2 separate regions of the Homo sapiens genome follow, and region 2 is linked to region 1. A link means that fine-mapping ties the variant in region 1 to the expression of a gene that starts in the linked region. Tissue or cell type: blood mononuclear cells. Region 1 holds a variant in brackets; the other region holds the start of a gene. All regions are shown on one strand. Distances are from middle to middle.

Evidence for each region. PIP is the estimated chance that this variant, and not a neighbour inherited with it, causes the effect.
Region 2: it holds the start of NOCT, and the variant in region 1 is fine-mapped to the expression of NOCT in blood mononuclear cells (TOPMed, PIP 0.97).

What each region holds. Positions count from the first base shown.
Region 1 is chr4:138,918,719-138,925,034 of GRCh38, forward strand. All of the region lies in intron 2 of LOC105377448 (a long non-coding RNA gene), which reads right to left. Among named protein-coding and RNA genes, the nearest start is that of NOCT, 94 kb to the right of the region's middle. RefSeq lists an enhancer at 580-639. The variant T/G (reference allele first, on the strand shown) is at 3,317.
Region 2 is chr4:139,012,850-139,019,165 of GRCh38, forward strand. It overlaps NOCT (nocturnin), which reads left to right and starts at 2,932. Exons shown (of 3, transcript NM_012118.4): 1 at 2,932-3,322. The coding sequence starts at 3,133. RefSeq lists enhancers at 1,292-2,491, 1,628-2,549, 2,582-2,931 and a silencer at 3,072-3,371.

The DNA of each region.
Region 1 (6,316 bases):
AGTATCATAAATAAAATCAGGCCGTAGCACAGAGCCATGAGAACAGAAGTGAAGACAGAGTTTGACTGATGTTAGGGATTCATCTCCATGAAGGGCATGCTTTAAAGTGTGGTGGGATTTTGTTCCAAGCGGCCCAGGGGCCCTCAGTAGCTGTAAGGCATTTTTGATTTATCCCTGGCAGTGAAGCCCAAGAGAACCGCTCGATACCTAAGAGTATTTCCTGAAAATCAGAGTTCGGTTTTCAAGATGAAAATAAATCTGTTAAATTTTTTTGAATATCTCCTTGCCTTTGTCCCGACTGTTCCAAATCTGTCATCCTACGATCTTCAAATAAATAAATTATTTTAACCAAGAAATATAGAGCGACTGTTTTCTATTTATTTCTTTATGCCTTGCTTCAGTGCAGGGTTGAATTTGATCTGCCTGTGAGAAATATATATTTTTCATTTCCGGGGCTATCCACTCGTTTTCTATCTTCCTCTCTCCGTCTTCTCGACGTCTTCCTATCTCTGCTATCTTTCCTTCATAAGCACGGATAGGCGCTGGGAAGGCTCAGCCAATCCCCTTTTCAGGTGTGACACGAGTGCCCTCTGCCGTCCAGAATGGCGAACAACTCAGCATCCAGGCAGGTTCAGACCAGACGAGGAGATGGGGAAAAAACCTACAGCCGTTCTCCCATCTCTGGGCAAACACTGGACGTATTGTTAAAATGAATAATTTATTAAACCACAATTGTTTATTGACTGCTCTTTCACTATCTGCTTTCCAGTTATTAAACACATTCGCGGGGTGCTTGGGTGTCAGCCCTTAGCCGACTTGAAGCTTCTTTCTGAGGCAATGATGTTCCCAGCCCCCTTGCTTCTCTCCACACGAGACATTTTCGATCTCTTTTGTCAGGTCAGGGTCAAACTACAGTTGTTCTGAGATGACTTTATCAATTCTCAGTTGATAGACTCTAAATGAAAAAATGCCTACCGCCGCCCCGTCGCTACTTAAGAAGGAGGGTTATTTGTGTAATGTTCTGTCAGTCCAGCAGGATCTGTGACAGACGCAAAGAGTCAAGTGAAATAAGGGAAAAGAAGTTTTTATGCCTCTTATTAGTCTCTCTTCCTTACATCAAGGAACTGATGACATCCATCCTAGGATGTCCTTCCAAACTGAAAGAGGCACGGGAAGAACCGTCCCTCACTCCTTTCGGAGTAAGCAAGACCCGCTTTAAGTATTCGTGCTAATTCTCCACCCTTCACCCTGAGGGGATTCAATGTCCACAGCAGAGCAGGTGGGAGGGGGCCCTTGCCAGGAAGAAAATTCTCTCACTCCAGATTTGAAGGAAGCATCAGTCTGTACCCAGAGTGCCCCCTGCTTTTAAAGGGCAAACATTTCCACCATCCAGAATTGCAAGAAAATGTGCAGTAACCCAAAAATAAATCAATAAGGCCCAAGGCAAAGGAAGAAACAGAGATTCCCAAAATTGAAAGTGAGATTTTATTCTAAAACCCAAAATTTTTAAAAATATTTGATTGATACTGATACTAGACATAAGCACAAGAAAGCTTTCACCATTCCCTCTCTCTCTCTCTATCTCCTAAAATAAGACAATCATTTCATTTCCAAATAACTCATTAGGGATTTGTGTTTAAATGCAGAGACCTATTGCCAGATGTTGCCAAAATAAAAAAGAAAAACCCTAACAGTAAATAAAATCAGAAATGTCATCAAATTATTCCTTTCCCCAAACTATATATGACTTTCAAGGAAAACTCACACTTTGATATTCTCTGTCACAATATTAATATTCACAGGCTTAGCATCCAGAAGACACAGGCGAGACACAGGCTAGGGGGTGGGGAGGAACCCTGCCAGCAAGGTTTGCCCAAACTCAAGCATTGAGAAAGCGTGTCTGTAAGATACAGTACATATTGATGACAACTGGCACTAAATTTGAAGTGAATCTGATTTTCTGACCTGAGTGACAGCTATGGTTTTGCCAGGCATGTGACTGAACATGGCACAACCTCACTAAGCTTTGGTTTCCATGTTTGTAAAATTAAACTGATGCTTCTTCCTTCATGAAATTAAATATGAGTTCTTCTGTGTCATGTACACAAAGTACTTAGCACAGTTAGAGGTAGAGTAAACATGCAATACATGTATGGGACCCTTAGCTTTCTATTTTCATTCCCTTCTTTCCATCCTAAGCACCATACTTCAAAACAGGGTCAGGCCAGGTGTGGTGGTTCATGCTTGTAATCCCAGCACTTTGGAAGGCCAAGGTGAGTGGATTGCTTGAGCCCAGGAGTTCAAGAACAGCCTGGGAAACATGGTGAAACCCCATCTCTATAAAAAAAAAAAAAATACAAAAATTAGCCAGGTGTGGTGGCTCACACCTATAGTCCCAGCTACTTGGGGAACTGAGGCAGGAGGATGGGTTGAACCCGGGGAAGTTGAGGCTGCAGTGAGCCAAGATTGAGCCACTACACTCCAGCCTGGGTAACAGAGTGAGTCCTTGTCTCAAAAAAAAAAAAAAAAAAAGGAAAGGGTCACCCCATTTTTATGCTTCCTAAATTCCATCTGCCTTTATTCAACAAATATTTATTGAACTCTTCTATGTTCTAGCTACTCAAATATGAAAAAGAGTCCTCACCCTCTAGGAAGAGGACATATATATAACACATTAACAATCTATATAATCAAACTAATTATTTGTTATTGGCACTAAAATAGCTGGTGTTATACGTGGCTGTGTGGCACACATGAAGTTTACTTTAGTGGAAGGTGTTCGGGGTAGGAAAGAACCACAATTATTTTTCTTTTCATACAAAGTCATGTAATTAATCATTTCATTTAGAATAATGGTACATTAAAAGTTTAAATTGATAAGTCTAGGTATTTTGAATGTTGCCATAATTTTACAGGTGATAAAAGAGGCTCAAAATGTTCATGATTTGGTCAGGCATGGTGGCTCACACCTGTAATCTCAGTGCTTTGGGAGGCTGAGGTGGGTGGATCACCTGAGGTCAGGAGTTCGAGACCAGCCTGGCCAACATGGCAAAACCCTGTCTATAGTAAAAATACAAAAATTAGCTGGGCATCGTGGCGCGTGCCTGTAATCCCAGCTACTAGGGGGGCTGAGGCAGGAGGATTGCTTGAATCTGAGAGGCATAGGTTGCTGTGAGCCGAGATCGTGCCACTGCACTCCAGCCTGGGCAACAGAGTGAGACTCTGTCTCAAAAAAAAAAAAAAAAAAAAAATAGAAAGAAAGAAAAGTTTATGATTTTTTTTTACAGTTGTGCATTTTAATTTCCTATTTTTCCCC[T/G]GTGGATTCACAAAGGAAATCATGCTAGAAAAAAAGATGTCATCTTAAAGCTGAATGGAAGCCTGGCCAACATGGTGAAACCCTGTCTCTACTAAAAATGCAAAAATTAGCCGGGTGTGGTGGTGCACCCCTGTAATCCCAGCTACTCAGGAGGCTGAGGCAGGAGAATTACTTGAACCCGGAGGCAGAGGCTGCAGTGAGCCAAGATCGTGCCACTGTGCTCCAGCCTGGGTGACAGAGCGAGACCCCATCTCGAAAAATAAAAAAATTTAAAAACATTTTTTTTAAAGCTGAATAGATCTTAGTTTCTCTTCAGCAAAAGCTATAAAAATTTGAGAATCTTGAAAGTCCAGAAGCTTGAGTCTATGTTTTTCTCTGTTGTGTCCCCATTTCCTGGTCCAAAATCTGGCATATAGTAGATGCTCAATAGGTCTTTTTGGAAAGAAAGTAATAACAACATGAGGGTTGAGCCAGATAGGCCCTTTCAGGCAGTATCCGCCATGAGACTGATGGGGCTGGGGGAGCATTTAGGAAAGGCATGAAAACCAGGTGCACATCAGAGCACCCAGAGATGGGCATCCTCCCAGAAATTGAAATGTGCAGTGCAAGGACATGCCCATGGAGATGCCCATGGGAAGAATGCCAAGCAGAGGCCAGGAAGGTGCCTGGAGAGACAGGCCATCCGTACCACAGGGAGAGAACACACATAGGACTTCATAGGAGCCCAGACTGATTATTCTGAATTTAATATTTGCTTAAGTTTTGAAATTCATCTTAATCATAAAACCCTAAAATAGAAAGGAAAATCTAAAGGATACATCATCCCGGTGATAAAATCAGCACCAATTCTAACCTTATCATCCAGAATCCAGACATTTAAAAAATAACAGAGCCTAACGTAAAAGGGGACAGACAAGAGAAATCAGAAATTATTCTCTGGACCCAGTGATTCCCTCAAATTGTCCCCCATTTACTTTCCAATATCTGCAATGAGCAAGTGTACACTCTCTAAGTGACCAAAGCAGACACTCGGGTTTGCACTCCCTGATTTTTTGATCGAATTGCTTCCCACAGTGGATGTCCTCACTGATATTACTTTCTATGTTTCTGCTAATAGAATAAGAAATGTACTAATAGTATATAAAGAAGCTTTATTACTAATTTGGAAATTCTTACGACTCTGAATTATAATCTTAGAAAATCACTGCAATTGAAATATTTTAGTCTGGCCATTAAACTTTGGTTAACAAAGATTAATAAGTGCCCTTGTAACACCAGGTAATACAGCCAAAAGGAAAAAAAAAGGTGTGAGTGCAATGATTGAGATATGTGTAGGGGTATTATGGAAGCAGCTAAGAGGAGTCTCTACCCAGTTTAAGGGGTGAGGAGGAAAGAAATGAGGAGAGGAGATTTCCTGGAAGACCCAGTTGAGCCTAAAAGCTTCCTCCCACCCCATGCCAGATCAGCTCTCATTTTCATTTGTATCTGGAAACTAATTGACCATTTTGAAAGGAGTGAATAAGCTCAGGCACAATGGCTCACACCTGTAATCCCAGCACTTTGGGAGGCCGAGGTGGGCAAATCACAAGGTCAGGGGTTTGAGACCAACCTGGCCAATATAGTGAAACGCCGTCTCTACTAAAAATACAAAAAAATTAGCTGGGAGTGGTGGTGGGCGCCTGTAATCCCAGCTACTCGGGAGGCTGAGGCAAGAGAATCGTCTGAACCCAGGAGTCATAGGTTGCAGTGAGCCAAGATTGCATCACTGCACTCCAGTCTGGGTGACAGAGCAGGACTCTGTCTCAAAAAAAAAAAAAAAAAAAGGAGTGAATAAATCTGAATGCTGACTATTGTCTAAACCCAAGGAACGGGGGTTGTCATTGAGACCTTCCAAACACTGCAAAGACTACACCACTGTTATACAACCTATGATCAGAGGTCACATCGAAGCAAATTGAATAATCAAAGTAATCAATTTGAAAAAGATTTTTATTTCTTCAAAGCAATGTAAGAAAAAAGGAGGCGGGCATGGTGGCTCATGCCTGTAATCTCAGCACTTTTGGAGGCAGGAGGATCACTTGAGGCCAGAAGTTCAAGACTAGCCTGGCCAAAATGGCAAAACCCTGTCTCTACTAAAAATACAAAAATTAGCGAGGCATGGTGTGAGCTTGAGAGGCTGGAGCACAAGAATTGCTTGAACCAGGGAGATGGAGGTTGCAGTGAGCCGAGATTACACCACTGCACTCCAGCCTGGGCGACAGAGTGAGACTCTCTCTCAAAACTAAAGGGAAAAAGAAAGAAAATAAAAAGAAAAAAAGGAGATTCTAGCACTTTTGGAGGCCAAGGTAGACAGGTCACTTGAGCCCAGGAGTTCAAGACCAGCCTGGACAACACAGCAAAACCCTTTCTCTACAAAAAATACAAAAATTGGCAGAGTGTGGTGGCATGTGCCAGTAGTCCCAGCTATGCAGGTGGGTTGAGATGGGAGGATCGCCTGAGCCCAGAGAGGTCGAGGTTGCAGTGAGCCACGATCACACCACTCCACTCCAGCCTGGGCAACAGAGTGAGACCCTGTCTCAAAAAAAAAAAAAAAAAGAAAAAAGAAGGAGGTGGGGGAGGAAGAGGAGTAGAAGAGGAAGTAGAAGGGGGAGAATAAGCAAGTCTCCCAGCAGGAAGGACCTGGAAATGTTACCTTATACAGAGAAACTTTCTTTCTATAAATGTATGTGTCCACCATCATCAGAATTTACAGAGGCCCATCATCATAAACCCAAGCACTTTTCATTATTTTTATCAGAGAAATGGAGGGCGCTTACACTGGTAAGTGCTTTAAAATTTCCTGAGCAATGATCCTAAGTGCAAGAAGATGTTATTATGTCCTGTGCCTCCTTCCTCTGACGTTTAAGGCGCTCTTGGGAGAATGGCAAATGTTGGGAATACATTAGAATGATGTGAGGTCAAGGAAAATGGTGGCCAAATGTTGGTAAAGATATCTACAAA
Region 2 (6,316 bases), 94 kb after region 1:
ACTTTATGAGCTCGTCCTGAATTCTTTCTTGTGTAATATTCAAGAACCCTCTTTTGGGGTCTGGATTGGGACCCCTTTCCAGTAACATTTCCTCTTCTCTGGTCCCACAATACTTTGTCCATAAGTGATTCTGTACTTATTAGCAGATAATTACAAGTATTTTTGTTTATACAATGTCTTACCCCCTAAACTGTCAATAGATTTTGTTCAATTTATTTTTGTATGCTCTAATATAGAGCCTGGCACATAATGTGTATTCAACAAATGTTTACTGAATAAATTTTCAAGGGAATAAGTTTTAATTTCTATCTTTCTGATTGCTTAGTGTTTAATATATTATAAAAAATATGATTCAGGCCGAGCGTGGTGGCTCATGCCTGTAATCCCAGCACTTTGGGAGACTGAGGCGAGGGGATCACCTGAGGTCAGGAGTTTGAGACCAGCCTGGACAATATGATGAAACCTTGTCTCTACTAAAAAATACAAAAATTAGCCAGGCGTGGTGGTGTGCGCCTGTAGTCAGAGCTACTCCAGAGGCTGAGGCAGGAGAATGGCTGGAACCCGGGAGGCGGAGGTTGCAGGGAGCCAAGATGACGCCACTGTACTCCAGCCTGGGCAACAGAGCGACAGACTCCATCTCAAATAAATAAATAAAAAAAAAATAAATAATATGATGCACTTTCAGGATAGCATGCTCTTTGAATCTCTTTAAATAGTGACAGTTTATATTTGAACAGTTATTTTTTCATTTTTCAAAGCACTTTTCCCCAACATTTTATTATGAAAATCTCCAAATATATGGGGGAAAAATAATTGTAAGTGAACACTTGTGTCGGGACTCAGAAACTGATAGCCCAAAATATGGGGCTTTGACCGGCTGAATGGAAGCCTCAAGGTCTCTCTGACCTCACTGCCCAGCACCATCTCTCCCAAAGCACAGGATGAAGTTGAAGTTCCTTTATCTGGCTACAATCCGAACCCACCAAAAGGAACAATTGTTTTTTCTTCCCCTCCTTGTAAGACCAAAAATGTAACCACCTGAACAGACCCTTTCACAAGATAATGTGCAAGTTCATCCCTGTGCCCTGATCCATTCACTTTCCCTAGTCATCTCCTCAACAGAATGCCTCTGCTCCCCTCTCCCCAAGTCTGTTGGCCAGGATGGTAGACAAGCTTCTGAACCCCGTTGGGGGTGTGTAATCACTCTGTGATTCTCCCCATGTACATGTTAATAAATGCATATGCCTTTTCTCCCATTAATCTGCCTTTTGTGAGTTGATTTTTCAGCAAACTTCAGAGGGCAAAGGGAACATTTTTCCCATGGTCCCTATACCCATATATACCCACTACCTAGATTCAAAATCAACATTTTGCTATATTTGCAAAACACTTTTCATAGGCTAATTTTATTATCACCTTTTTAAAAAAATTCTTTTTACAAGTACTGCTCCTTGTGGAGCAGGACTACTCGATAGACAGTGTGCCCAGAGTAGCTTATTATCATTTTTTATTTCACCTAATGACTAAGGTATGATTCTATGTTTTATAGATAAGGAAACTGAAACTGAGGCTTTAATGACTTCCAAGGAGCTTGTCTGCCAGAAGTTGTAATCAACTTGTGCCAGCTGATCTGTCCACACCCTCTATCCACAGGTGTTAGATATGTAACCTAGGTCTGAAAAATATTTAGAATATTCTTGTGATGAAAAGCTTGCAATTCCACAACACAGGGGAATCAGCAAAATCATGGGAAAACCAATAGAATACATTTCTAACTCATGAATCATTCAGAGAAAAATCCAGTCTTGGGTTTTCCCTCCCCCTCATCCCATTTCTATTCCTGATTAGTCATCATTTCCTGCCCAGCCTGTCTGAGATGTTTCTTCCATCCTTTCTTTTCCAGTAACAGTAACCTGGTGCGGGTCTACAGTATCTGTTATCTCAGCTGATTTCCTTTCTGCCTTTTCATGAACCAGAGACATGTGATTTCCAATTAAAGCACAGCCCTGACCATGTCTTTGCTCAGCTTACAAAACGTCAACGGCTCGCAGCTATCCACCGAATTAAGCCTACTATAATCCCCTTCCTTCCACACTACAACCTATCCACGCATCTGTCCTCTTACTCCTTAGCTTCCATCTTACATGACTAAGAGTTGTTTCCCCAAATACACCCTTATTTACTTTTTTCATTTATAACTCACCACCACCCCCTCCAAAGTTTCACGTGGGTAAATTCTAGACCTCCACGTCATAGGCCAACTCAAATGCCAATCCTTCTAATGAACCTTCTAGAGAGCCCGGGCCTGTTGTCATCTCTATAGCCAATCTTTGGCATCTTGTGGCAATAATCTCATTCTACCTTGTAGAGCTTTCTGGTCTGACTTCCCTTGCCACCTTCTGCTCCCTTTGCCTAAGTATAACACTTTTGAGGAAAAGAACGCTGTTTTAATCATCGTCGCCTCGCCCACAGGCGGTGCTTTATTGTGCTTAATATCGTTTAACGCATCACACACTGCCGAGGGGGTCGGAGGCGGACGCCTTTTGCTGTATCCACACAGACCCGCGCAGGCACACACGTAGGCCGTCTGCCACTCTGACAGACACGTGTCCCCTGGGCCACAGCCCTGGAACTGTCTCGGGATTCCCAGCCTGTGGGCGCTTCCATGCTGGCCAGCGGAAGGGGACGCTTTTTTCTTCAGAACAGCTCCAACGGATACCTCTTATTTTAGACCGCCTGCGGATTCTATCTATAAATCAGCCTAAGCCCCGCTTCCTTTTAAAACAGGATTACGCCGGGTCGAGGGAGCCTGGCGTGGCCGCGCAGTGGCCGGGTCCCGCGGATTCCCCTCCAGCTCCCGCTTGGTAGCGCCCGCTTTGTCAGCGCGCAGCGCTCGCCGGGCGCCCTGCAGGTCTCGCCAGGTCTCACAGCAGACGGTGCCGACGCAGCGGTGTTGCACCTCCCTCTCCGGCTCTGCTGCCCGGGATTTCCCCAGAACCTGCGCCGCGCGAGAAGGAGCCTGGGAGCATCCGCCCACACTGCCCGGACAGTCGGCTCGACTCGGTGCCCTCGGCCCCAGCCGGGCTCCGCTCCTCGGGCGCGCGAGGGGCCGTGGTGGCGGCGGCGCCCGGCATGTTTCATAGTCCGCGGCGGCTCTGCTCGGCCCTGCTGCAGAGGGACGCGCCCGGCCTGCGCCGCCTGCCCGCCCCAGGGCTGCGCCGCCCGTTGTCCCCGCCGGCTGCTGTTCCCAGGCCCGCATCCCCCCGGCTGCTGGCGGCGGCCTCGGCGGCCTCGGGCGCCGCGAGGTCGTGTTCCCGAACAGGTGAGTGCACCCCAGTTCCGGGCGGAGAACGCCACGGCCGCCAACGCGCGGCCGCCACCTGGAGACCGCGCGGAATGAATGAGAAGCCCGGGGCTGCCGGTCGTGGAGTCTGGCCTGAAAGTGGGTCCTTTACCGGAGCAACCTTCTGCGTTCCCTTTTTCCTCTTTCCCTGTTCCCCGACTTGCCTGGGGCTTGCATCAAAGCTAGTAAGAACTGGGAGACTGTATTCAGGTTCCCGCTTGACCCTTAGAGGCCATGCTTTCAGAATTTCTTGTTCTTGACCGTTAAATTTCCCCCTTCCGAGGCCGCGAGTTACTATGTTGGTTACATTTTTTATTGCACGACTTAACGGAAATTTTTATGGAAAAAAAAATCTAAATGATGCTTATTTGCTTATATAGCTTTCATGGTCTAGATATTAAGTTTTTTTTTTAAGTCGTGATAATAACACATTGATTCGTTTTACGTTGTTTTTTTTTTTTTTTTTTTTTTTTTTTTTTGAGATGGAGTCTCACTGTGTCACCCAGGCTGGAGTCCAGTGGCACGATATCGGCTTACCGCAACCTCCCGCTCCCGGGTTCAAGCGATTCTCCTGCCTCAGCCTCCCGAGTAGCTGGGATTACAGGCGCCAGTCACCACGCCTAGCTAACTTTTGTATATTTAGTAGAGACGGGGGTTTCACCATTTTGGCCAGGCTGGTCTTGAACTCCTGACCTCGTGATCCACCCGCCTCAGCCTCCCAGAGTGCTGGGATCACAGGCGTGAGCCACCGCGCTCGGCCATTTTACGTTTCTTTGGATTTTTTTTTTTTGGAGGCTTCCACTCTTTATAGTTAACATCATTTTTTGTCCTGTGTATCTAAGATCTTGTAAAAGTGAGGCCTTAGTTTCACCAAGAGCTGTTTTCATACATCATAATAACTACCCTGAGTTTTCCTTTTTTGCTACCTCTGTTTCTGCCTGGGCACACATTACCATGGCCACAAATTACATACAAATTAATTATACTTTAAAAATTGATAAATTTTTTCTTTCAAAACTAGGCAATACATAACTTTTTTTTTTTTTTTTTTTGAGACGGAGTTTTGCTCTTATTTCCCAGGCTGGAGTGCAATGGCGCGATCTCGGCTCACCGCAACCTCTGCCTCCCGGGTTCAAGCGATTCTCCTGCCTCAACCTCCCGAGAAGCTGGGATTACAGGCATGCGCCACCGCGCCAGGCTGATTTTTGTATTTTTAGTAGAGATGGGGTTTCTCCATGTTGGTCAGGCTGGCCTCGAACTCCCTAGCTCAGGTGAACCTCCCGCTTTGGCCTCCCAAAGTGCTGGGATTACAGGCGTGAGCCACCGCCCCCCCGGCCTATAAAATTTAAAAAAATAGGCCGGGCGCGGTGGCTCACGCCTGTAATCCAGCACTGTGGGAGGCGGAGGCGGGTAGATCACCCGAGGTCAGGAGTTCGTGACCATCCTGGCCAATGGGCTTGGGCGTGGTGGCACTCGCCTGTAATCCCAGCTACTCTGGAGGCTGAGGCAGGAGAATCACTTGAACCTGGGAGGCGGAGTGTTGCAGTGAGCCGAGATCGCACCATTGCACTCCAGCCTGGGTGACAAGAGTAAAACTCCGTCTCAAAACAAAATTAATAAAAATTTTAAAAAATGTATATATTTTAAAAATGGTCATCTGGAATGTGATTGAAGCCAAGACTTTAAACTATTCGCATTGTTGGCAGATATTTAGGTATTTCCCAATCTAGTATCAAACTCCTGGCCTCGAGTTATCCTCAGACTCTGGAGCAGTTGAGATTTGCAGGTGGAAGCCACCATGCCCAACTTAGTCATTTTAAAATTAGGATGTTGAATTGGTTGCTGGAGATTCTGAACTATATTGTTCCTTAGAGTGAACTTGACAGTTAGATTCCCCACCCCCACCCCCAATTTCGTAGGAATGTGGTACATTGTGAAATAACTGCCAGAATGAGTATATTGCCTGATAACTTTTTTCTTGCTGGAAATTTTAAGAACAACATTGTTAGAGGTTTGAGGTAGGAAAAGTAAAAGAAAACCAGGTGATGTCTTCTGTACCAGCTTATATCTTAAATTCCCTCAAAGTCTCAGAGGCAGGGTTAGTAGGTACCTCCTCATGGGAATACTGTTAGCTTGTGTAAAACATAGATGGCTGTGTTATCTGAGTAATTACTGTTATCTGAGTAATAATATCAGGTCAGATTGGAATGTTGGGCTTTTGACCCAAGAAAGTGTTTAATGAACTTCTTTTAAGAAATCCCCTGAAACCCCCTAGTTTTACAGATAAGGAAATTGAAGGACTTTATGGTACTTAAACTTTTGTAGGCAGTTACTATAAAGTCTAGACAATTTTCCTGTTCATGCATTTTTAGCTTCAGCAGCTTGTTGGAAGAAACATGCCTGCATTGATTCATTCATTGCTTGTTCACTCATTCCAGATCTTTACAGAATGTCTCACACAATGTAGGTGCTTTATTATGGGAGTTAAAAACATGAGCTTTAGTCAGTCCCTAAGGAGTTTACTGCCCAGTAAGAGATGAGATTTGCACAATGAAATGGCTGTTTAATGAAATGAAACACCTTTTATTCTCTTGACTTGGAAATGGCACAAGGGTGCAGGAAAGCAGGAAGTCCCTTTTGGGCTTCTAGAAATGGGTGGCATTTCAGCTGGCTCTTGAAGCATGGTTAGGATTGGAAGAGATTACTATAAAGCGTTTTGTTTGGAAAAAGCAGGAGTAAATGCAGAAAGGCATGAGACACACACAGATGAGGAAGGGTGAGAGAAGAGGCACTTTGCAAAAATGGACATTGTTTTCCAAAGAGCCTCAGACCCAGCACTAAGTGCTTTTTAATTTTAATTTTTATTTTTATTTTTTTTGAGACAAGGTTCTCTCGCACTGTTGCCCAGGATGGAGTGTAGTGGCGCCACCTCTGCTCACTGCAACCTCCACCTCCCAGGCTCAAGCAGTTCTC